Homo sapiens: one gene and its partners. The protein of the gene in region 1 interacts with the protein of each later gene in a pairwise test. Each region holds a gene or a part of one and is shown on either strand. Other genes may lie near its edges. The genes, in order: TMEM218, LSMEM2, CLEC10A and CD300A.

Region 1 (7,038 bases):
TTGTAGAATTTTCTAAAGTATTCTGTTCTAAAAACAACAGAAGTGGAGGTGGAGAGGGGATGCTTTGGTTTTTCTTGATTATGACTTTGGGCAGAAGTAAAAATAAAAACTACACATTTCCATTCTTAGGAATTGGGAATTACCAAGAATAAATGGGAATGCACCCAGCTGGTACCTGTCTAGGAAGAAGGACTTTGGGATGAAGAGGTTGTTGACAGCAGGCCTCTGGACATTGTTAAGGGACTGAAACATAGAATATTGGCTCCAAGGAAGAGACTGTCCAGACCTAACTGATCAAAGAAGAAATTATAGACAGTGCTTTTAATAATTTGTCTTTTTAACCCCAGGTTCTCTGTCATTTTTTTATTCTTCGGTGCTGTGATCATCACATCAGTTCTGTTGCTTTTCCCGCGAGCTGGTGAATTCCCAGCCCCAGAAGTGGAAGTTAAGGTAAAGCTGTTGCTTTCGTTTTGCCTCCTGAGCTGTGATTCTTATTTCTCTTGGTCTGCACATCCGTCCTGCCCTTGATGTTCCCTGACATCGGGTTGCCTGAGATGTCAGAATTGTAAAGTTCAACCAATGACGGGGAAAGTTCAGAGGGAGTTTTAAGTTCCCCTGCCCCTTCACTCAGGAAAAGAATCTTACTCTGAATTCCATCTACAACCCCACCAGGCAGTTATTTGCCTGATTTGGTCTCATCTTCAGTTTGCATCAAGTTGAAAACAGCCTGTTGGAAAGCCACCTCGTACCATGGGGACAGAAAAAAAAGAAAATGAAATAGGGATAGTCACAGGCCTGCACCCGAGATGAAGTGTTCCCATTCCTGGCAGCCTGGGCTCCTAACTGCAGATCCTGGGCTGAAATTGATGTGGTGCCCTGAGGGTGCTGAGGACATGCTTCTCCAACTGCATGTGCTAGAATTTTCCCAACAGTCTTCTGGGAGTTCTTTGGTCCTCATACCTGGGACCATACCTGCCAGCACCCATGTCTTTAAATGGATTTTTATCATCTCTCTCAGAATCCTTCTCTGGAGTTCTTTACCATGGCTTTACCATGCATGGCTGGTCTCAGACCCATGGGATCTTGACAATGACATTGACCTTTTCTGTCCCATTACTCCTTCTCACAGCTTTCCTCTCAACCTTCATTTTGATGTTTTAAGTGATAGTCATGAAAATAGCTAACATTCTTTAAGGGATTTCCGTGTGCCAGGTCCTGTGCCAAACACTTTGTTTGCACTGTCTCATTTAAACCTCAGGACAGCCCTAAGTAGTATGACATAGGTACCATTATTATCCCCATTTTATAGGTAAGAACACTGAGTCTGTCAGAGGTTAAGGTAACTTGCCCAAGGTCACATAGCAAGAGGCAGAACAGGGATTCAAGCTGAGGTCCGTCTTCAAAATCTTCAGTGTTGAGAACTTAACAGAATATTCAGGGCAGTCCCAGAGAGCTCATGGGTTAGCATTTTGACACTAGACAACAACAGTACACAAGATTATATGTGTAACTTTTGAACTAAAATTGACACTGTAGGATTAACTATGGCAAGAGGAAGGAAATTAAACTCCAAGGGAAATAGTACTTTACCACACACACTTAAGGAATTATTTCCATGGACACAAGTTTGTTGTCAGTATTTGGAAAACACTCTGGAGGTGTGGGTACCACATGTGTGAGCCAGGGGCAAATTCACACCTCACTTATCTTTTTTTTTTTTTTTTTTTTTGAGACAGTCTCGCTCTGTCGGCCAGGCTGGAGTGCAGTGGCATGATCTCGGCACACTGCAACCTCCGTCTCCCGGACTCAAGCAATTCTCCTGCCTCAGCCTCCCGAGTAGCTGAGATTATAGGCATGTGCCACCACACCCAGCTAATTTTTGTATTTTTGGTAGAGATAGGGTTTCACCATGTTGGCCAGGCTGGTCTCAAACTGCTGACCTCAGGTGATCCACTCGCCTCAGCCTCCCAAAGTGCTGGGATTACAGACGTGAGCCACCGCACCCAGCTGCTTTCCTTGTCTTTTAAGGGGGAGAGTGATGTGGGCTGCCACATTTCTGGATGCTGCAGATGTAAACATCGGGAGAAGGGCACAGAGCAAACACATTTTTGAAATCAATCCCTCGATTGTCTGTCATATGAGTTTCAGACCCAGGAGACAAGAATGGGGTTTGAGCAAAATACTTTTGTCAGCATGGCCGGCAGAATTGGAGTTCTCATTTTCAGGTTTTGAGAGCGGGCCTCTGCAGCAGCCTGGCTCAATGCTGTATCAATAATACATGGCCTGGGCCTTCTGCACCCAAGGCCTGCTAATTGGCTAATTAAAAAGTGAAACGTGTCGAACGAGCAAACATGTGGCCCGCAAGAGACTTGTTCAGTACCGGAGCCAAGGTCAAAGTTATGTTAAAGCTGTTTTATCAAACTGACCTTTGTTGTAAGTTGACTGTTGGGGTAATCTCTGGAGCAGCTGAGGTGTCTTTGGACCTCAGTGATCCTACTAGGGCTCGGGTCTGAGAGATACTTTGTGTATGGCCGCTGTGTTAGTTTTCTGTTGCTGCTGTAACAAATTATGTGAACTAATGGCTCCCAACACAGATGTATTATCTTACAGTTCTGTAGGTTAGAGTCCAACATCAGTCTCACTGGGCTAAAACCAAGGGGTTGGCAGGGCAGCATTCCTTTCCAGAAGTTCTAGGGGAGAATCCATTTCCTTATCCTTTCCAGCTTCTAGAGGCTGCTCGTATTCCTTGGCTGACAGCCCCCTTCCTCCATCTTCAGAGCCAGTGACATCACACCTCACTGATGCTTCCATCCTCACCTCTCTTGCTCTGACCCTCTCTCCCACCTCCCTATTCAACTTAGAAGGATCCTGTGATTAGATTGGGTCCACCTGGATTGGATAATCCAGATTAATACCCCTTGTTTTAAGGGCAGCTGATTGGCAATCTTAATTCTCCTTTAACATATAATCTAACATATTCACAATTTCTGGGGATTAGGATGTGGATATCTTTGGGCCATTATTCTGTCTGCCACAATTGCCTTTCAGCTGTTTTGGATTCTCCTAGGTACTGGGATTTCAAAGTTTCTGTGAAGTCAGTCAGCCACTTGGTTGGTGGTGTTGCTCCATTAGGTCTATAGATTAAATTGCTTTTTCCTGCCCAAATTTAAGCACCACCATTTGGATCTGGGGAGAGTGGAGCTCTGGAAGGGGTCAGTGGACAAGTGGGTAGAGCCAACACCAATTATAGGGTTTTGTCAGCAAAGACCAACATCTTTGGGGCCTCAAGTGTAAGGCCAGGCAGCCCACTGTCTGCTTTGGGGCAAGTTACCTATCCTTTTAGTGTTTTAGTATCTCAGGTAAATGGTCATTTTCCCTGCCCCGTGGCATGGGACTCTTCCGCTGATAGCTTTAAAGAGTCACCTTTCATTTTGAAAATGAACCCTCCTGAAATGGCAATGGATTGATGATTTTGGGGGTTGGGTCTTAGATACATGGGAGTTTATTATACTATTGCATTTTTATGTATGTTTAAAATTCTCCGTAATAAAATGTATTTTAGCAACAACAAAAATGAGCCTTTCTAGGACCATGCAAAAGCTTCTCATTAACTCTTTCAGGTAACAGATTTCAGAATATAAAAGAATTCATCCAGGGACTTCAAAGTGTTTACCAACATCCTAAATTGAGCCATTTGTTCCCTGTCCCTCATTAATCCCTTCTTGTGTCTCCTGCTCAGGGAGTTGAGGAAAAGATTCTTTTTTCTCATGTACAGAGGAGACTCAGGGCAGGATGTTACTGGAAGTTATACACATGAACTAACTCTTGGCCCACTCATCATGGAGTTCAGGTTAACCCAGCCAGGGTGTCTAACTGGTAGTAATTTCATTTTGATGTTTTCTTTCTCCAGATTGTGGATGACTTTTTCATTGGCCGCTATGTCCTGCTGGCTTTCCTTAGTGCCATCTTCCTTGGAGGCCTCTTCTTGGTTTTAATCCATTATGTTCTGGAGCCGATCTATGCCAAACCACTGCACTCCTACTGACCACTCTTCAGGAAAACGAAAACCTGTTCTCTCCTTCATTGTGATGACATTGATGAGCAGGAAGGCACTATTCAGAGCCTTGTTTTGACAGCCCTCATGCCTTAAGGTTAGAGGAGTATCTGTCCATCACTAAGACAAATCTCTGGAGTCCTGGCTTCCAGAAACAGGATTGCCAAATTGTCCCTGTGGGGCTAGATTCTTACCAGCTTAAGAAGGATATTGCTATCTTCTTAGTACCCGTACCTTAGGATTTCCAACTGTTTTGAAAGGGAAATAGTAACAGTGATCTGCTTAGAGTGGATTTTCACTCAAGTCCTTAGTAAGTGGATTTTGGGGAAAAAAGCACCTGGGCTTCTGGTTCTTTTTGATAATATATAAAATTATTCATTATGAGGTTGCAGTTGTTTGCAAAGGAGAGGCACTCAAATTTGAAAGGTTATTTTAATGTGATAATTTGGAAGACTTACTCAGATGTTGGTCATTGACCACTCTGTGCATATATTTCTGCAGAGCTCTGTGAAGGCAATGAGTGTCACTTCCCTCTGCTCTAATAAAGCAATAAATAATAGCTAAAGGGCTGACTTTCACTTCGAACTCTTGGCCACGGCTTTTTAATCAAGTTCTTTAGGTTTCCTTGGGATTAGAGGAAAGGTATGGAAATATTGTTTTTTGTTTTTTGTCTTGCCATGTATCTGTAGGTTTTTTTCTTCCATGATGTGGTGGGCTGTGTGTGCCTTATTTAATTACCATGAGTCCATTTTGGGGTGTCTTCACTTTTCATCTTTGTAGCCCTTTCTCCAAAGCTAGTGAGGAAGGTATATTCTCAACATCAGATATAACTCTATACCTGTCTGATCTCCCAGACCAAATGAAATTTGCATTAAATGGAGGGGCCCTGGTCAGGTTCCACTTTGGAAGTCTGATCCTGACTCCCTAGAGCCATTTGAAAAAGAATCTTCTGGCTTAAAATTAAGAACCAAGAAAACAAGTTGGAAAGAGATCACTGATGGAGTATGTGCTCTATGCCAATAGCACACTAATTCCTTTGAGGTTTAATTTATTTAATTTTTACAACGGTCTCATTTTTATCATCCCCACTTTAAAGTAGAAAAAATGGAAGCTTAAAGAGATCAGCTGACTTGCCCAACCTTCACCTAACAGCCAGTGTGCAAACCCAGGTGTGGTAGGCCCCAGGGCTTGTCTCAGAGAGAAAACACACTAGGGTTTGTGGAACTCTGATTGAGAGCTTCAGGTAGGTTAAGGCCACACTGTTCCTTCACTTTCTCTCCTCAATTCTGTTTTCAGGGTAGAGAAGTTACCCAGTCCTGCCACCCCACAGGCAACTAAGCTCTAAATTCCAAGAAGAGAGAACAGGTAACCACTGAGAGTCATGGGCTGGTGAGGGCCAGGTATAGTTATCCCTACATTGAACCATTTCCTTTATCTTACTTAGTTTGGAAAAACTTTGCAGATAAGGCTTTGTACAGAAAACTTCAAAGGAAATAGTTTCCTAATCTGGCCTAGGGCACACAGGTAAGAAAAGAAGAAACATCCTCTAAGCAGATTGAGGGAGAGAAAAAAGAATGCATAAGTCTTGAGGGAATTGAGACAAGCTGGGGGCCTCATGCTATTGTGAGTCTCCCTGCAGCCCAAGTGGAAGCTTGGCTCCTAACAAGCACAAGCTGCCAATTGTTACCTTCTTCTGAGAGCCTTGCTAAAAAAGTAACTCTGGGAAAACTCTTATAGGTTCCTGACCATGAATCCATCTTTTTTATTCCCCCCAAAAGTTATTCAACTATTAGATCAATGGATAATAACTATGAGGTTTTGGGTGACTATTTAGATGGAGGAAAGTGTATTAAGGTTGGAAACTAAATTCTATCCTTAATACTACTGTTTTCTAATTTTTGTTTTTTTGCCTGATGTAAATGAAAGGCATATATGTTAAAGATTGGCTTTAGGAAAAAAAAAAAAATACCCTGTGCAAAGTTTATTTCAGCTTGACTTGACCTACAGTCTACAGACCTGGAGTCTATAATTACCAGCTGTGGTGAAATGAATGATAGATTTCTTTCTACCTGCATACTCAATGCAGTTATGCAAAAAAAGCCCCGCAGGGTTGGGATAAGACGTAGAAGGCTGAGAGGGCTCAAAATGGATTTCACTGAGAGTTTGGCATGGGATAACCCTATAGTCAATGTCTGTTATGGTACCCTGTATGCTCATGGCCTTCTTGGAGACAGGGCTCAGAGGTCATTCCTTAAATACAGACAGAAGTCATCTTAGTGTTCAGAACCATTCTGTGATCAGTGGCCTTAGAACATGTTCCCTCTACTGTTCCCTACCCAGAGGGGATCCTGTGGCAGACTGGTGATCCCCACTGTTTAGAAGGTGGAGAGGGAGAGTAAATCTGGGTTTCTATATAAGAAAATAGGTTATTTCGTGGCGTCTTAAAATTGTATCCTGACAAAAGCTGAATTAGGAGGATACCACCCTATCCCCACAATGGAGATCACAATGGGTAATTTGTTAAGTTCCTTAAATTTTTCACTGATAAAAATGGAAGTAAAGCTACCATTCTTTGTGTACAATGTAAATTTAATGTAAAACTGCATCAGAATTACCATACCAATGTCCAGGGACTAGGGAGTACATAGCCATTCATTCTCGAATCCTGCCATTCATTCAGCATATATTGTGTGCCCGTAGGGTGTAAAGCACTAGTCCTGGTGGAGTAAGCCCATGGAAGAACTAGGCTGTAAGGTGTCTAGACTGTCTTCCTCACTGCTTCCTGGAAGGAGGGCATCCAATTTATTTTTAAATGTTTTTATTCTAACATAAAGCAATCCATTTTTTGTTCTGTTATTTAACAGAAACTTTAGTATCAACTCTATTTCATGGTTGTTGCAGTTGAAGTGTTTCTGGTTTATTTTTTGCTCAATGTGTAAAGAAACCTGCTGTGATTATTTTACAGATGAGAAACAGGCAGAGAG
Region 2 (6,566 bases), on another chromosome or scaffold:
CACCATGTTGACCAGGCTGATCTTGAACTCCTGACCTCGTGATCCGCCCACCTCAGCCTCCCAAAGTGCTGGGATTACAGGTGTGAGCCACCATGCCCGGCCCTAATCTTTGATTTTTTTGTAGAGATGGGGTCTCCCTACGTTGCCCTGGCTGGTTTCAAACTCTTAGACTCAAATGATCCTCCTGCCTTGGCCTCCCAAAGTGCTGGGATTACAGGCATGAGCCACAGTGCCCGGCCCAAAGAGAGAATTTAATATGACCTTCAACCCACCACCCAGACATAATGACTGGCAGCACTTGCTTGTTTTTGTTGTACTTGCTTTTGAGCACGTCAAGAGGCAGTTTCAAGTAAATCATGGAGGTTGAGTTACTGTCCTGAGAATGACAGTCCCAGAGTGCAAGGCCACCCTTGCTCCTATCTGGAGGTGTCCCCTCAATGCTCTTCCCTACTGTTATCAGCTTCCAGGTGGGTATCTGGAGCTCTTGGCATCTGGACCAGGATTTTTAGACATCAAGTTAAAGAACAACTAGAAGAAAATATAATTAAATATTGGCCAGGTACGGTGGCTCATGCCTGTAAACCCAGCACTTTGGGAGGACAAGATGGGCAGATGACTTGAGGTCAGGAGTTCAAGACCAGCGTGGCCAAAATGGTGAAACCCCAGCTGTACTAAAAATGCAAAAATTAGCTGGGCATGGTGGCACGTGCCTGTAATCCCAGCTACTGGGGAGACGAGGCAGGAAAATCACTTGAACCCAGGAGGCAGAAGTTGCAGTGAGCTGAGATCATGCCACTGTACTCCAGTCTGGGTGACACAGTAAGACTCTGTCTCAAAAAAAACAGACAAACAAAAGGCCAGGCATGGTGGCTCATGCCTGTAATCCCAGCACTTTGGGAGGCTGAGGTGAGCAGATCACGAGGTCAAGAGATCGAGACCATCCTGGCCAACATGGTGAAACCCCGTCTCTACTAAAAATACAAAAATTAGCCAGGCGTGGTGGCACGTGCCTGTAGTTCCAGCCACTCGGGAGGCTAAGGCAGGAGAATCGGTTGAACCTGGGAGGCGGAGGTTGCAGTGAGCTGAGATTGCGCCACTGCACTCCAGCATGGCAAGAGAGGGAGATTCTGTCTCAAAAACAAACAAACAAACGAAACACCGGCTGGGTGCGATGGCTCACGCCTATAATCCCAGCACTTTGGGAGGCTGAGGCGGGTGGATTACCTGAGGTCAGGAGTTCAAGACCAGCCTGGCCAAGAAGGTGAAACCCCATCTTTATCAAAAAATACAAAAATTGGCCGGGCGCGGTGGTTCACACCTGTAATCCCAGAACTTTGGGAGGCTGAGGCAGACGGATCACAAGGTTAGGAGATCGAGACTATCCTGGCTAACATGGTGAAACCCCATCTCTACTAAAAATACAAAAAATTAGCCGGGCATGGCAGCGGACGCCTGTAGTCCCAGCTACTTGGGAGGCTGAGGCAGGAGAATGGCACGAACCTGGGAGGCGGAGCTTGCAGTGAGCCGAGATCGTGCCACTGCACTCCAGCCTGGGCGGCAGAGCGAGACTCCATCTCAAAAAAAAAAAAAAAAAAAAAAATTTGCAGGGTGTGGTGGTGCACACCTGTAGTGCTAGCTACTAAGGAGGGTGAGGTAGGAGAAACCCTTGAACCCGGGAGGCGGAGGTTGCAGTGAGCCCAGATCGTGCCACTGCACTCCAGCCAGGGCAACAGAGACTCTGTCTCAAACAAACAAACAAAAAGCAAAAACTTCAATGAGTGTGAAAGTACATAATTAAAATCAAAAGAAAAGTACACAGACCCAAGTGACTAAATGGGCAGAGGCTTCAAATTGATAATTAAGAAGCCACACACAGCTGGGCATGGTGGCTTGCGCCTATAATCCCAGCACTTTGGGAGGCCAAGGCGGGTGGATCACTTGAGGTCAGGAGTTTGAGACCAGCCTGGCCAACATGGCAAAACCTGGTCTCTACTAAAAATACAAAAATTAGCCAGGCATGGTGGCAGGTGCCTGTAGTCCCAGCTACTTGGGAGGCTGAAGCACGAGAATTGCTTGAACCTGGGAGGTGGAGGTTGCAGTGAGCTGAGATCGCACCACTGCACTCCAGCCTGGGCAACACAGCAAGACTGTCTCAAAAAAAAAAAAAAAAAAAAAAGCGCCACACACGTATTAGTCACACTCCCTAGGCTAAGAAACCCAATAAAATAAGAAAGACCATTTCTCATCTCTCAAGTTAGCAAATATATGTGTGCACGTGTGCATGTAAATATAATTTTTTTCCTATGGGGATGCCTAATGGTGGCAATATTATACCCTGCGGGGGAGCTGTGGACAGTGCTTCTGGAGGACAGTTTGGTAATAGCTTTAAAAAAAATCAGGCCGGGCATGGTGGCTCACACCTGTAATCCCAGCATTTTGAGAGGCCAAGCAGGATGGATCTCTTGAGACCAGGAGCTCGAGACCAGCCTGGGCAACATAGTAAAACCCTGTCTCTACAAAAAATACAAAAAAAATTAACTGGGCATGGTAGTGCATGCCTGTAGTCCCAGCTACTGGGAAGGCTGATGCAGGAGGATCACCTGAGCCCAGGAGGTGGAGGCTGCGGTGAACTGTGATCACTCCACTGAACTCCAGCCTGGGTGAAAGAGTAAGAATCTGTCTCAAAAACAAAACAAAAATCTCAGGCCAGGCGCGATGGCTCACGCCTGTAATCCCAGCACTTTGGGAGTCTGAGGCGGGCGGATCACTTGAGGTCAGGAGTTTGAGACCAGCCTAGCCAGCATGGTGAAACCTGGTTTCTACTGAAAATACAAAAATTAGCAGGGCGTGGTGGCACACATCTGTAATCCCAGCTACTTGGGAGGCTGAAACAGGAGAATCACTTGAACCCAGGAGGTGGAGGTTGCAATGAGCCAAGATTGCGCCACTGCACTCCAGCCTGGGCAACAGAGCAAGACTCTGTCTCAAAAACAAAAAAACAGGCCGGGCACGGTGGCTCACGCCTGTAAATCCCAGCACTTTGGGAGGCCGAGGTGGGTGGATCACAAGGTCAGGGGTTCAAGACTAGCCTGGCCAAGATGGTGAAACCCCATCTCCACTAAAAATATAAAAAGTAGCTGGGTGTGGTGGAAGGCGCCTGTAATCCCAGCTACTCAGGAGGCTGAGGCAGAGAACTGATTGAACCCGGGAGGCAGAGGTTGCAGTGAGCCGAGATCTTGCCATTGCACTCCAGCCTGGGCGACAGAGGGAGACTCCATCTTAAAAAAACCAAACCAAAACAAAAAACGACCAAATGCAGTGGCTCATGCCTGTAAATGCCAGGACTTTGGAAGGCCGAGGCGGGCAGATCACTTGAGGTCAGGAGTTCCAGACCAGCCTGGCCAACATGGTGAATCCTCATCTCTACCAAAAATACAAAAATTAGCTGGGCGTGGTGGCACACGCCTGTAATCCCAGCTACTCAGGAGGCTGATGCAGGAGAATCGCTTGAACCCAGGAGGTGGAAGGTGCAGTGAGGCGAGATCACGACATAGCACTCCAGCCTGGGCAATACAGGGAGACTCCATCTCAAAAAACAAACAAACAAACAAAAATCCCTGCTCTTGGATCCAGTAATTCCACTTCTGGGAATTAAACTATCAGGAAATTGGGAAAAAACCTTCATATTCAACGGTGGATGTCCTGGGGGTTAATTTCAAAAGGGAACTGCAGCGGTGAGCCAAGATCGCGCCATTGCGCTCCAGCCTGGGCAACAAGAGCGAAACTCCGTCTCAAAAAAAAAAGGGGGGCGGGGACTGCAAACAACCTAGATGCCCAGGCAGCCTCAGGGAGATGTGTGAAGGGAGAGACCTCAGAGGCATGTGCAACAGTATAACAAAGAAGGGTCTCCCCAACAGTAAATGTTGAATGAAAACAGCAGGGTTCACACATGTACAGCAGAGTCACACTGAGTATGTTAACAAACACAGAACCAAGGCCAGGAGGGAAAGGCACCAGAGTGGCTACAATAGGGCTTTCTGACCAGAAGATGCCAGGCATTGGGTCTGCAGGGAGAACTGACAAAAGAGGCAGGACTGAATTCCATTTGCTGCAGGTTTAGCATTCAAGGCTGATAAACTGCTAGAAATAAGCAGGCAGAGGAATGCCTGAGTGAGTCCCTGGGGTGCTTGGAAGGAAACAAATCAAATGTACCTGTTGCTCCTGTATACAGAATAAGCCTGTAAGGGTCTGGGATCATCCTGGATCCAAATCAAGGGTAATTCCTGAGTCAGTTTTAGGGGATTTGGAACCAAATGTCCCACTATCCCTATCATCCGCAAGTCCTTGCTGCCTGAAGCCACCTGGTAGAAGGAAGGGGGTTGACCCACCACTGGCTAAATCAGCCTGCGCTGCCCCTGCAGACTCCGTGGCGCCAATGATGCCCAGCCAGAGGAGCAGGGGGCCATTGGCCCCCAACCACGTGCATGAGGTATGCCTGCACCAGGTGGAGTCCATCAGCGACCTACATAGTGGAGGTGAGTGGGGACAGTGGGGTGGATGATGTGCTGGGGGAGGGGACGAAAGCAGGTGCACCCACCACCCTCCCAATGTCCCATCCACCCAGCAGGCACACTGCGCCCCTATCTAACTGAAGAGGCACGACCGTGGGATGAGCTGCTGGGCGTTTTGCCGCCGTCACTGTGTGCCCAGGCTGGCTGCAGCCCTGTGTACAGACGAGGAGGGTTCCTGCTGCTGCTCGCGCTGCTGGTGCTCACTTGCCTAGTGCTCGCACTCCTGGCTGTCTACCTGAGCGGTATGGACGCATAGGGTGCTAGTAGGAATGGAAAGCAAGGCAGTGGGGACTGGGAGGCCCTTCTGTGCAGCTGGAAGGAGTAACTGCAGATGCTGCAGCAGTGAAGGATGGGGCGGGAGGCCCGTGGCTGCCCCTGGTCCTGGGCTGGGTCTGCAGGGGTCACGGGGTGGCACATGGTCTGATGATCCCCCACTTCCCATTCACAGTGCTGCAGAGTGAATCCCTGCGCATCCTGGCACACACGCTCCGCACGCAGGAGGAGACACTACTCAAACTCCGCTTGGCCAGCCTCAGCCAGCTTCGGAGGCTCAACTCCAGTGAGGCCCAAGCACCCAGCTGAGATGCCATTTGGATCTGGGGCCTGGGGGTGTGTGTTGGTGGGGGAATAAAGTGGCTATGGGCAGGTCTCTCCTTCCCTACTGCTGGCTGCCACATCTACACTATTTCCTTGGTGAGATTTTTGTACAAGAACCTGTTGTTAACTTAATGGCTGCCTCCCTCTCCTGATCTCTTCAAGCCAGGCCTAGCCAAGCCTCTGGTGCCAAAGCCTCGCTTTGGGTGGCCCAAGGTCAGGGGAAGGGGCACCAGCCTCCTGGCTCCTCCTGTGGCCTGTCAACACTCTCTGGCCACCCCAGATGGCAGGTTCTGAAGTCTAGAAATAGCTGCCCCCATAGCAATCACCCAAACTCTGCCAGGGCTCCCAGTGAGGGTCCAGCCTCAGCTCTTAAAGACAGGCTGGGCTCTGAGTAGGGGGAGAGGCACCACCTGGGGAAGACTGCCTTGGAGGGCAAAGGTGACATCGTGGAAGACCAGTTGGGCCCAAGCCTGGGATAGTAGATGGGGAGGGAGAACAGAAAAATACCCAGGGGTTAAGACCACAGAAGGCTGACCGTTCTGTTTAATTATCTGTAATAATCCTTAAAAATCAGCACACAAATCCATTCCAGGTAGCTTTGCCACCCCACCTGCTGTGGTGGCATTTGTCCAGATGCCACCACCCCCCTAAGAGTGGGTCATCCTGGGGGAGCAAGGCCTGAGAAAGGAAAGGAAGGGAAAGGCCCCCTAGTGCCTGCCCCACAGCCCTGAGGAAGGCACATATTTAGCCTGGCCTGAGACAGGACAGGAAGGGGCCACAGGGCTGAGTGCAGGGACAAAGGGGTCAGGGTCCCAAGTGTCCGGGCCCCCAGCTACCCACCCCATGTCTGTTTTTGGTTTTGTCATTAAAAAAAATAAAGTGACAAATACTGGTGGAGACCAGTTGTTGCACTGTCTTCTGTTAAAAATACGGACCAAGGGCATAGAAAGTCTCCTCTTCAGCAGGTCCTGCTTCACAGGATGTCTGCCCGCTTGTCCCGCACACGGCTTCGAGCCTTGGTCCGGGCTTTGAAGGCAGCAGCATTGTACAGGTGCTAGAGTGGGGACAGAGAGTGACACCCTGGGGAGCTGGGAAGGGAAAGGGCTGGGGGTCCTCTTCCGGCCTCTACAGAATTCCAGGCCTCCAGGAAATGGGAATAGGGGGAAGAGAAAGGTGCCCAAGGGTGCAAACCTTCTCAAAGCGTGGAACCTTGCAGGCCTTCAGGGCAGTGGCATCCAGCAACAGCACAGGGCCCAGGCCAAAGATGTCACGGAGTAGCTCATTGTTCTGGGGGGCAGAGGGCAGTGAGCTCAGGCCAGACTGAAGCAACCACACCAGATGTCCCCTCCCTGTCCGTCCCCGCACCTGGAGGTGGTGGTGCATGCCCGAACCCAGCAC
Region 3 (3,253 bases), on another chromosome or scaffold:
TGGTGGGGGTAGTGATGGAGAGAGTTGACGGACCCATAGTCAGGATGGCTGCTGGCTTTGTCACTGAGTAGTTGGGTTATGTACTCAAATTACTTCACCTCTCTGAGGCTTAGTTTCCTCATCGGCAATATTGAACAATAATAGTGCCTGCCCCACTGGGTTGCCGTGAGGACCCAATAAGGCAATGCTTATGGAGGGCCCTGCTCGGTGCTGGTACAGAGGACCTGATGAATCCCAGCACTGACCTTCCCATCCACCTGTTTAGATTCCAAATTTCAGAGGGACCTGGTGACCCTGAGAACAGATTTTAGCAACTTCACCTCAAACACTGTGGCGGAGATCCAGGCACTGACTTCCCAGGGTGAGTCTGGTTTGGATGGGGCTCTGGGCTGGGGCCAGGCCAGGGAGGAGGAAGTTGACCCCTAAGCCAAGTCTCCGTGTCCTCCAGGCAGCAGCTTGGAAGAAACGATAGCATCTCTGAAAGCTGAGGTGGAGGGTTTCAAGCAGGAACGGCAGGCAGGTGAGAGACCCTCCGAGTATGGGTGTGGGGGGCTAGGCGCTCAGACACAGTGGAGGTGGGAACAGACTCCTGGTGCTGAACTGCCCTCCCCTTCAGCCAGCAGCTTGAAAGGCAGCATGCAGGCCGGGCGCAGTGGTTCACGCCTGTAATCCCAGCAGTTTGGGAGGCCGAGGCGGGTGGATCACGAGGTCAGGAGTTCGAGAGCAGCCTGATCGACATGGTGAAACCCCGTCTCTACTAAAAAAAATACAAAAAATAGCTGGGTGTGGTGGTGGGCGCCTGTAATCTCAGCTACTAGGGAGGCTGAGGCAGGAGAATTGCTTGAACACGGGAGGCGGAGGTAGCCGTGAGCCGAGATCGCGCCATTGCACTCCAGCCTGGGCAGCAAGAGTGAAACTCCGTCTCAAAAAAAAAAAAAAAAAAAAGAAAGAAAGAAAGAAAGGCAGCATGCTTTCTCTGGAGAGCAGGCTGGAGAAACAGGGGCAGAGGAATCCAAAGCAGATTTGATGGCTGTACCTGGCCATGATGTAGGGGGTGGGTGGGGGCGGGAAGGAACATTCCCTGGCTTGGCCCTGTGCAGGGGTATCTGAGCTCCAGGAACACACTACGCAGAAGGCACACCTAGGCCACTGTCCCCACTGCCCATCTGTGTGTGTCCCAGTTCATTCTGAAATGCTCCTGCGAGTCCAGCAGCTGGTGCAAGACCTGAAGAAACTGACCTGCCAGGTGGCTACTCTCAACAACAATGGTGAGGAAGGTATGGGGAGTACCTGGCCCTACTTTTCTGCCCATGGCCCACTGGGCAGAGCCTCAGCCTCTCCACCCTATCCTATTTCTCCCCAATCAGCCTCCACTGAAGGGACCTGCTGCCCTGTCAACTGGGTGGAGCACCAAGACAGCTGCTACTGGTTCTCTCACTCTGGGATGTCCTGGGCCGAGGCTGAGAAGTACTGCCAGCTGAAGAACGCCCACCTGGTGGTCATCAACTCCAGGGAGGAGCAGGTGAGGGCTTCTGGTACTCAGTTCCTAAGACATGTCCCATTTAGGGAAATGGTTCTTAAGCTTGGCCGCACATTGGAATCATCTGGGAGCTTCCAGAATGACTGTCATCTGTGCCACACCCTCAGAGATTTAATAGGCCTGAGCATCCAGAGAAACATCTCCAAACTCCTCAGTTGATTTAACGAAGAGCTAAAGTTGAGAATCACTAGTTTAAGGAGTTGGCTGGGATGGGAAGAAGTCACCACTGCCCTTCTGTCACCGCAGAATTTTGTCCAGAAATATCTAGGCTCCGCATACACCTGGATGGGCCTCAGTGACCCTGAAGGAGCCTGGAAGTGGGTGGATGGAACAGACTATGCGACCGGCTTCCAGTGAGTGCACCCTGGCTTTCTGTGCCAATGTCCTCCGTCAGCGTTTCCCCCAGGGATCTGACTGGCAGCCTCTCCTCCCCTGAACTGAATTCTACTCCATCTACCCTTCCTAGCTTGCTGTTGTCTTTTCCTCTCAGGAACTGGAAGCCAGGCCAGCCAGACGACTGGCAGGGGCACGGGCTGGGTGGAGGCGAGGACTGTGCTCACTTCCATCCAGACGGCAGGTGGAATGACGACGTCTGCCAGAGGCCCTACCACTGGGTCTGCGAGGCTGGCCTGGGTCAGACCAGCCAGGAGAGTCACTGAGCTGCCTTTGGTGGGACCACCCGGCCACAGAAATGGCGGTGGGAGGAGGACTCTTCTCACGACCTCCTCGCAAGACCGCTCTGGGAGAGAAATAAGCACTGGGAGATTGGAAGCACTGCTAACATTTTGAATTTTTTTCTCTTTAATTTTAAAAAGATGGTATAGTGTTCTTAAGCTTTTATTTTTTTTCCAACTTTTGAAAGTCAACTTCATGAAGGTATAATTTTTACATAATAAAAATGCACTCATTTAAAGAGTAGAGATGACTTTGACAAATATGCATGCCTAGGTGACTACCACTCCGATCGCAATAGATAACATTGCCATCGCCCCCACCAGTCCCCTCATGCCTCTGGGCAGTCCAACCACTTCCCTGTTTCCAGGCCAGTGATCTACTTCTTTTTCACTATTTATTGGCCTTGCCTCTTCTAGAGCTTCTAGAACTTCATATAAGTGAAATCATACACTCTCGTGTATATACTTCATATAAGTGAATATATACTCTCGTGAGAACTTACGTACTTTGTGTTGCTTGATTTTTGGCAATCTAAAAATGGCAGAGTGGAGAAGCCAGGTGAAGCCTTCGAAAGTCCTATGTGATTGAGAAAATAGCATTTTCTTCTCATATAGATTTGAGTTCAAATCTTTTCTGTCACTTAAAGATGGTATAAACTTAGGGTGATTAGGAAAAGCCATTGTTTAATTTCTCTGAAGATCCCAGAGTTGTTGGGAGATGTAGATAAGATCCCCAGGTGTATTGGTTAGCAATTGGTGTGTAACAAACCACCTCAAAGCTCAGGGCTTATACAGTAAGCATTTATTATAGCTCATGAGGCTATAGGTCTGGTCTGGCCAGGTTTGGGTCATCTTGGCTGGGCTTGTTTATGCGTCCGTGGTCAGCTGGTGGGTTGGCTTGGGGTTGGCTGGTCTAGGGTAGCCTTGCTCCCATGTCTCATATTTGGCTGGCTCTGGGCTGGGACAATGGGGATGACTGGGCCACATTAGCTTAGCCTGGCCTTGTTCACAGAATGGCTGGGTGGGGGTCCAAGAGAGA
Region 4 (7,038 bases), on another chromosome or scaffold:
ACCAGCCTGGCCAACATGGTGAAACCCCGTGTCTCCTAAAAACACAAAATTAGCCAGGCATGGTAGTGTGCACCCTGTAGTCCCAGCCACTCGGGAGGCTGAGACATGAGAGTCACTTGAACCCAGGAGGCGGAGGTTGCAGTGAGCCGAGATCATGCCACTGAGCTCTGGCCTGGGCGACAAGAGCGAAACTCTGTCTCAAAAAAATGAAATAAAATAATTAATCATTTACCCCTTACAAAAAAATCCATTTATTAATGTATATACTAACTCCACTGTTTTTCTGTTTCTTAATTCACTGATTTCTGTGAATTCACCAGTTCGTGAAAGATGACCTGGTTCTTTCTGTGTTGTGTGTGGGTGTGTGTGTTCCTCTTCTGACCTCTTGAGTTGGACAATTCAGTCATTTACCTGAGAGTTAATGGGTCAAGATTCTGTGATCTTCAAGGAAAACGTTAAGACGACAGAGGAATATCCTGGTAGAGGACCCTGGCCCCAAGGTGGTCCCCAGTCTCCTGTTTATGATTAGAGGGGTTTGGGGTGGTGATTCAGGTTGGAAGAGAGAAAGCGCAGAAACACAAGCCTGGGAGCACTGGGGATCCATGTGATCGTTCCAGGTAAGTGGGGAAGTAAATGGAGGGTTTTCTGACACTTCGCAATCTCTAAATTATAATGACACCCTCACAGGTGGAACAGAGCTTTGGGGAGATGATTGGGTGACAGTTTTTTATCCAAGATTTCAGAGAAGAGAAGTTAATCAGGAGAGAGAGAAAGAGAGAGAGCTAGAGGGAGAGAGAGAGAGGGAGAAAGAAACTAAATCCGAAGGGAAGTCAGACACTGGAGGTAGGACGAGAGACAGGATTGGGTGCAGTGGGCAGAGGTGGTGGGGTCACTGAGGTCAGGAGAGAAGCCAAAACATGGACAAAGAAAGATGACGATTCGCAGCCCAGGAGAGGCAGGGAATCGGGTCAGGACAGGGAGCAGGAACAGTGTCTTGGGTGAAGGAGGGCTGGGAACTGACAGTTTTTATTTATTTTTTTTGAGATAGAGTCTCACTCTGTCGCCCAGGCTGGAGTGCAGTGGTGTGATCACAGCTCACTGCAACCTCCACCTCCTGGACTCAAGTGATCCTCCCGCCTCAGCCTCCTGAGTAGCTGGGAATACAGGCACGTGCCACCATGCCTGGCTAATTTTTTGTGTTTTTGGTAGAGATGGGGGTCTCACCACATTGCCCAGGCTGGCCTCAAATGCCTAAGGCTCAAGCAATCCTCCCACTTTGGCCTCCCAAAGTGCTAGGATTACAGGCATGAGCCACTGCACCTGGCCTATTTATTTATTTGAGTCAGGGTCTCACTCTGTCACCCAGGCTGAAGTGCAGTGATGCGATCATAGCTCACTGCAGCCACAACCTCCTGGGCTAAAATGATCCTCCCACCTCAGCCTCCTGAGTAGCTGGGACCACACGTGTGCACCAGCACACCTGGCTAATTTTTGTATTTTTTTGTAGAGATGGAATCTCACTATGTTGCCCAGGCTCCATTTACTTATTAAGTACTTAATATGTGTCAATTTTAGTGATTTGTGTTTTTCTAGAAAATAACTTTCATCTAAGTTTATGAATTTTATGTAGAGAATTTCTGCAAAATATCTTGACTCTTCATTCTTTCTTCATCTATGGTCCTTTTCTCTTGTCATGTCTTATTTAGTCAGCCCAGAGGTTATCTATTTTTATTAGCTGGAGTCATGTGAAACCCTGTTGTCTTGGTCAAAAAGTTTAATATCAGCCATTTCATGTGATTCAACCTAATGTTATTTACCAGGCATTTTATACCTGTGATCTCATTTAACACCCTCAAAGGCCATATGAGTCAGGGACAATTGTCACCACTCTATAGACAAGGTGTCTGAAGCTCAGAGAGGTTAACTAACTTGCCCCAGAACACACAGCTGATACGTAATAGGGTAGAGATGTAAACGCAGATGGTTCTGAGGATCTTTCTGCTTTGTCCTGGCAATTGCTGCTGAGAGCCTCAGGAAGCATCACACCTGTGACAAGCTTAGAAAGGCCTTCTCTGCAGGGGGATGTGTACATCCAGGCGTGGAGAGGTTTGGGTGGGACTCTGGGAGAGGCACAGAGGAGCTTATCTTTGGGCAGCCGTGGGCTGGGTGTGGAGCTAGTGGGGTCCAGGAGAAGCTTGCACTGAAGTTTTTGTAGAGGGCCTACAGGTGCAAGGCACCTGTAGACGTTGAAGGTATAAGAAGGAGACCCCTACCAAAGTCTCATGTGTGAGGAGATTTAGCATCTGAAACAGTAAGTAAAATTAAAGAGTTCTGGCCAGGCGCAGTAGCTCATGCCTGTAATCCCAGCACTTTGGGAGGCCGAGGCAGGTGGATCACCTGAGGTCAGGAGTTCGAGACCAGCCAGGCCAACATGGTGAAACCCTGTCTCTACTAAAAACACAAAAATTATCCGGGTGTGGTGGACGCCTGTAATCCTAGCTACTCGGTAGGCTGAGGCAGGAGAATCGCTTGAACCCGGGAGGCAGAGGTTGCAATGAGCCGAGATCCCGCCACTGCACTCCAGCCTGGGCAACAGAGCAAGACTCCATCTCAAAAAAAAAAAAAAATCAAAGAGTTCTAACCCAAGGAAAGAAGAGCAAGCCCCCATCCCCACCATCCTTGAACAATATGGGGCCTAATCACAGAATTACAAGGGCATTGAGACACTGCACACACAACTGCCCAGCAGGCCTGTGCCCATCTGCCTGGGGCAGGGGCCATGTGTCCTCTGCTTGGCAGCCAACACTAGCTTCGAGCCATCACCTTACTCTCCTTGCTTTGCATCTGATAATTATTTGGGAAAATGTCAGACATAATTTTCAAGGAAGTTCATTTATTTCCGAGATTTAAGTCTAGGAGAGCTGGGCAAACTAAGGTAAGACACAGGATGAAAGTTTTCGTCAGCAAGCCTTCTGCGTTTGTGACTCTTTTTTTTTTTTTTTGAGACAGAGTCTCACCCTGTCACTCAGGCTGGAGTGCAGTGGTGCCATCTCAGCTCAACATAACCTCCGCCTCCAGGGTTGAAGCGATTCTTGTGCCTCAGCCTCCCCAGTAGCTGCAATTACAGGCGCATGCCACCACGCCCAGCTAATTTTTGTATTTTTAGTAGAGACAGGGTTTCACCATGTCGGCCAGGCTAGTCTCGAACTCCTGGCCTCAAGTGATCCACCCACCTTAGCCTCCCAAAGTGCTGGGATTACAGGCATAACCCACTGTACCCAGCCAGTATTCTTGTCAAAATGGCTTGACAACCCTATTACTGCCCGGGTTTGCCCCTTGGTGGGACCAGATCAGTGTGTGGGCCGGTCTTCCTCTTGCAGGGTTGCCCAGGGCTGGGGTGGCCCTCCCGGGAGTGCAGGTGCTTAGGGGTGAGTTCTCATGCTCCTGGCAGGTTTGGAAGCAGGAGGCCCCTGGTGGGTGAGAGGGGTGGGAAGGGTAAGGGAAAGGAGGCAGGGGGCTGGAGAAAGGGGCTACTATGAGCAAAATCTTGAGGGTGGTAGAGCAGAAAAGAGAATACTCAAGCTGTGATCTGGCTGATGGGGCTGATATGAGGTGAAGGAGTCAGGGGCTGAGGGCTGGGGGTGCTGATGTGGAGTCGGGGAATCTTTGGAGGAGGTGACTCCAGGGCACCCAGCCTGAGCTCTTCCGGTCTCCATGGAAAGCCTCTGCCCCATTCCCACCTGTGTGCGGAGGTAGCCTCTCATCCTCAGTCCCCGCTCCTGGGTGGACAAGGCCTCTCTGCCTGCCGCTGCCTCCTCCACACCCCCAGGGTCCATGCGGCCCTGACCCCAGGGCACCCCTGACCAGGCTCATCTGAGGAGGAGCTGGGACTCTGGCTTGTGTTTTCCAGGATGTTTTGCTCTGAGCAAATGCAGGACCGTGGCGGGCCCCGTGGGGGGATCCCTGAGTGTGCAGTGTCCCTATGAGAAGGAACACAGGACCCTCAACAAATACTGGTGCAGACCACCACAGATTTTCCTATGTGACAAGATTGTGGAGACCAAAGGGTCAGCAGGAAAAAGGAACGGCCGAGTGTCCATCAGGGACAGTCCTGCAAACCTCAGCTTCACAGTGACCCTGGAGAATCTCACAGAGGAGGATGCAGGCACCTACTGGTGTGGGGTGGATACACCATGGCTCCGAGACTTTCATGATCCCGTTGTCGAGGTTGAGGTGTCCGTGTTCCCGGGTGAGCCCCTCCTTCCCTCAGCGCCTAAATAGGCTCAGGTTGGAATTGTTGGGGCAGGAATCAGATCAGAGACGTGAAGCAGACAGTGTGTGTGTGTGTGTGCGTAAGAGAGAGAGAGGTGGGGGCCAGGGGAACACAGTCAGGGGGTCTCTCCTGGAGCAGCTGACATGTCTGCCCAGTATTGAAGAAGGGAAGGGTCCAGTGACAGGGAGGCTGAGAGAGCGTTGCCTGTGAAGGAGCCAGGAGCGCACCTGTGGCTCAGCCCCAACGGAAGTGCAGCTGAGTGGGGGAGGGGTGGGGCTGAACAGAGAGGCTGGGGGGCCAGATGGGAAGCTGCTGTCCTCAGGGGGAGCCTTACCACATGACAGGTCAGATTTGCAGTGTAGACAGACTCCTCTGCAGCATGGAGTTTCGCAGGAGCACCTGGACCCTCATCAGCAGGATGGAAAATCAGGACCACTGGGAGTGGCACCCGTGTCCTGTTCAGAAATGCCCAGTTGGCCCAGGAGGGTCCTGGAGAGACTCTAGCCCCAGGGTCCTGCATCCTGCCCCCTTCCTTAGTGGGCAGTTTGTGTGAAATCAAACCAAAAAGGCATCCTGAGTGGTGGGAGAGCCAGAGGACAGCTCCCTGGGTCTGACTTGTGGTTTTGCCACCAGCATCAACGTCAATGACACCTGCAAGTATCACTGCGGCCAAGACCTCAACAATCACAACTGCATTTCCACCTGTATCATCCACTACCCTGTTTGCAGTGGGTGCCACCCACAGTGCCAGCATCCAGGAGGAAACTGAGGAGGTGGTGAACTCACAGTAAGCACCCTAGCCCCTGAGACATGGAGGGGGCCCTGTGCTAAGAGGAGGAGCCCAGGGCGGGGACCTTGGCCATGTGGGCCAGCTGGAGGTGTGCATCGCTCCCTTTGCCCCAGGCCCAGGTTGGAAGCCATAGTCTGAACACCCCGGCTTGGACCTGCCCTTGGCTTTGGAAGGGGGCTCAGGTAGGGGGGAAGTTGGGGGGCAGATGGAAGGAAAGTGATAGTTACTGACAGCTGGTAACATCCTACGAGGCCCGTGTTAGATGCTTCACATGAGTATTCTCACTTGCCTTTCACTGCAGCCCTGTACTGTTGTCATTCCGTGTATTAGTCTGTTTTCGCACCGTTGATAAAGACATACCCGAGACTGGATAAATTATAATGAGAAAGAGGTTTTAATGTACTCACAGTTCCACATGGCTGAGGAGGCCTCACAATCAAGGCAGAAGGCAAAAGGCATGTCTTACATGGCAGCAGGCAAGACAGAGAATGAGAACCAAGCAAAAGGGGTTTCCTCTTATAAAGCCATCAGACCTCGTGAGACTTATTCACTACCACAAGAACAGTATGGAGCAAACCACCCCCATGATTCAGTTATCTCCCACTGGGTCCCTCCCACAACACGTGGGAATTATATGGGAGCTACAATTCAAGATGAGATTTGGGTGGGGACCCAGCCAACCCACATCAATCCCCATTTTACAGATGAGTAAACTGAGACTCAGCGAGGTGAAGCAATTTGCCCAGTCAAGTAGCTACAAGAGGCTAAGGCTAAGCTTCCAATTCTGGTTTATGTGACTCCAGAGCCTTGAGTTCTCCTCTCTAAATAGTGGTTCTTAACCTTTTTCGGGTTCACCAACCCCACATAGAATCTGACATCTATGGACACTCTCCCCAGAAAAACACATGCAGTCACAAACCTTTTCTGGGATTCACGGACTCCCTATTCTAGCACAAAACCCCACAATTCCATCCTGGCACTATCCACCCAGAGTTAGTGCAGACCCCACAGGTGAAGAGCTTCCACATCTAAATCAGATCCCACAAGACCGCCCTGATTTAGATGCCAGTCGAACTTTGGGGATCCCCAGGCCACCACACTTCTGACCAACTGGATGCAAATTTGGGGGTTCCCAGGACCCCCCCAGGTTCAATAATTTGTTAGACTCAGAACTCTGGAAAGCATTATACTTACAATTACAGTTTTATCATAAGGATAAAGGATAAAGATTAGGACCAGCCAATGCAGAGACACATAGGACAAGGCTTGGGAGGATTCCCAAACAGTTTCTGTGCCCTCTCCAGGTGGAATCAGGGAGCATCACCTGCACCCTCCCTGCGGCACCTCAATATATTTATCAACCAGGAAGCTCCTCCAAGCTTTGGTGTCCAGAGTTTTTATTGGGGTTTCATTACATAGGCATGATGTGATTGAACTGTCTCCACCTCCAGTCCCTCTTTGGGAGGTTGGGCTGGCTCAGGGCTCCAAATCTCTAATTACGTAGTTGGTCTTTCTGGTGACCAGCCCCATCCTATTGTCTCATCTCTTACCAAAGTCCAGGTGTGATTCATGAACAACAAAGACACTCCTAATTTTTGGGACATTCCAAGGATTTAGAGCCTCCCTCCTAAGAGCTAGGGACAAAGGCCAGCCAGATTCTTTACTGGACAACATCCATAAACCCCTCCACAGGCTTCTGCCAACATATAAGACAAGGCAAAATTCAGGCTTGAACATGCCACTTCCAGAAGTTTAGCCTGTAGATACACATAGGTGGCAGCGCTGAGTTCTGTGGGGCCTGAAGGTTGTGCAGTTTGCGGGGTGGGTTGGTGGGTGGGTAATCTAAGAAAAAGATGAGAAAATTATGAATGCAAACGTAGGCATGAAGGAAAGGGCCCAAGCAATGGAGGGACCTGAAGCTGGGCTGCATCAGCCTCCTGGTCAATCTGCTGCTGCGTGGTCAGGTGTGAAAAGG

The links.
Region 2: the proteins of TMEM218 (region 1) and LSMEM2 interact in binary tests that used the Homo sapiens proteins (3 or more experiments, as listed by UniProt).
Region 3: the proteins of TMEM218 (region 1) and CLEC10A interact in binary tests that used the Homo sapiens proteins (3 or more experiments, as listed by UniProt).
Region 4: the proteins of TMEM218 (region 1) and CD300A interact in binary tests that used the Homo sapiens proteins (3 or more experiments, as listed by UniProt).

The regions. Positions count from the first base shown.
Region 1 is NC_000011.10:125,094,613-125,101,650, reverse strand, and holds part of TMEM218 (transmembrane protein 218), read left to right. Parts: intron 1-129; coding exon of another isoform or gene 130-207; intron 208-347; coding exon 348-450; intron 451-3,910; coding exon 3,911-4,045; 3' UTR 4,046-7,038. UniProt on the Homo sapiens protein: May be involved in ciliary biogenesis or function.
Region 2 is NC_000003.12:50,282,050-50,288,615, forward strand, and holds the end of LSMEM2 (leucine-rich single-pass membrane protein 2), read left to right. Parts: intron 1-4,421; coding exon 4,422-4,535; intron 4,536-4,624; coding exon 4,625-4,813; intron 4,814-5,019; coding exon 5,020-5,153; 3' UTR 5,154-6,065; downstream 6,066-6,566. Other genes in the region: IFRD2 (interferon-related developmental regulator 2), read right to left, coding at 6,142-6,222, 6,360-6,455, 6,534-6,566.
Region 3 is NC_000017.11:7,074,000-7,077,252, reverse strand, and holds the end of CLEC10A (C-type lectin domain family 10 member A), read left to right. Parts: intron 1-265; coding exon 266-361; intron 362-448; coding exon 449-520; intron 521-1,100; coding exon of another isoform or gene 1,101-1,181; coding exon 1,182-1,268; coding exon of another isoform or gene 1,269-1,277; intron 1,278-1,367; coding exon 1,368-1,522; intron 1,523-1,786; coding exon 1,787-1,893; intron 1,894-2,030; coding exon 2,031-2,199; 3' UTR 2,200-2,716; downstream 2,717-3,253. UniProt on the Homo sapiens protein: C-type lectin receptor involved in recognition of N-acetylgalactosamine (GalNAc)-terminated glycans by myeloid antigen presenting cells (APCs).
Region 4 is NC_000017.11:74,469,626-74,476,663, forward strand, and holds part of CD300A (CMRF35-like molecule 8 isoform 1 precursor), read left to right. Parts: intron 1-3,910; coding exon 3,911-4,249; intron 4,250-4,906; coding exon 4,907-5,060; intron 5,061-7,038. UniProt on the Homo sapiens protein: Inhibitory receptor which may contribute to the down-regulation of cytolytic activity in natural killer (NK) cells, and to the down-regulation of mast cell degranulation.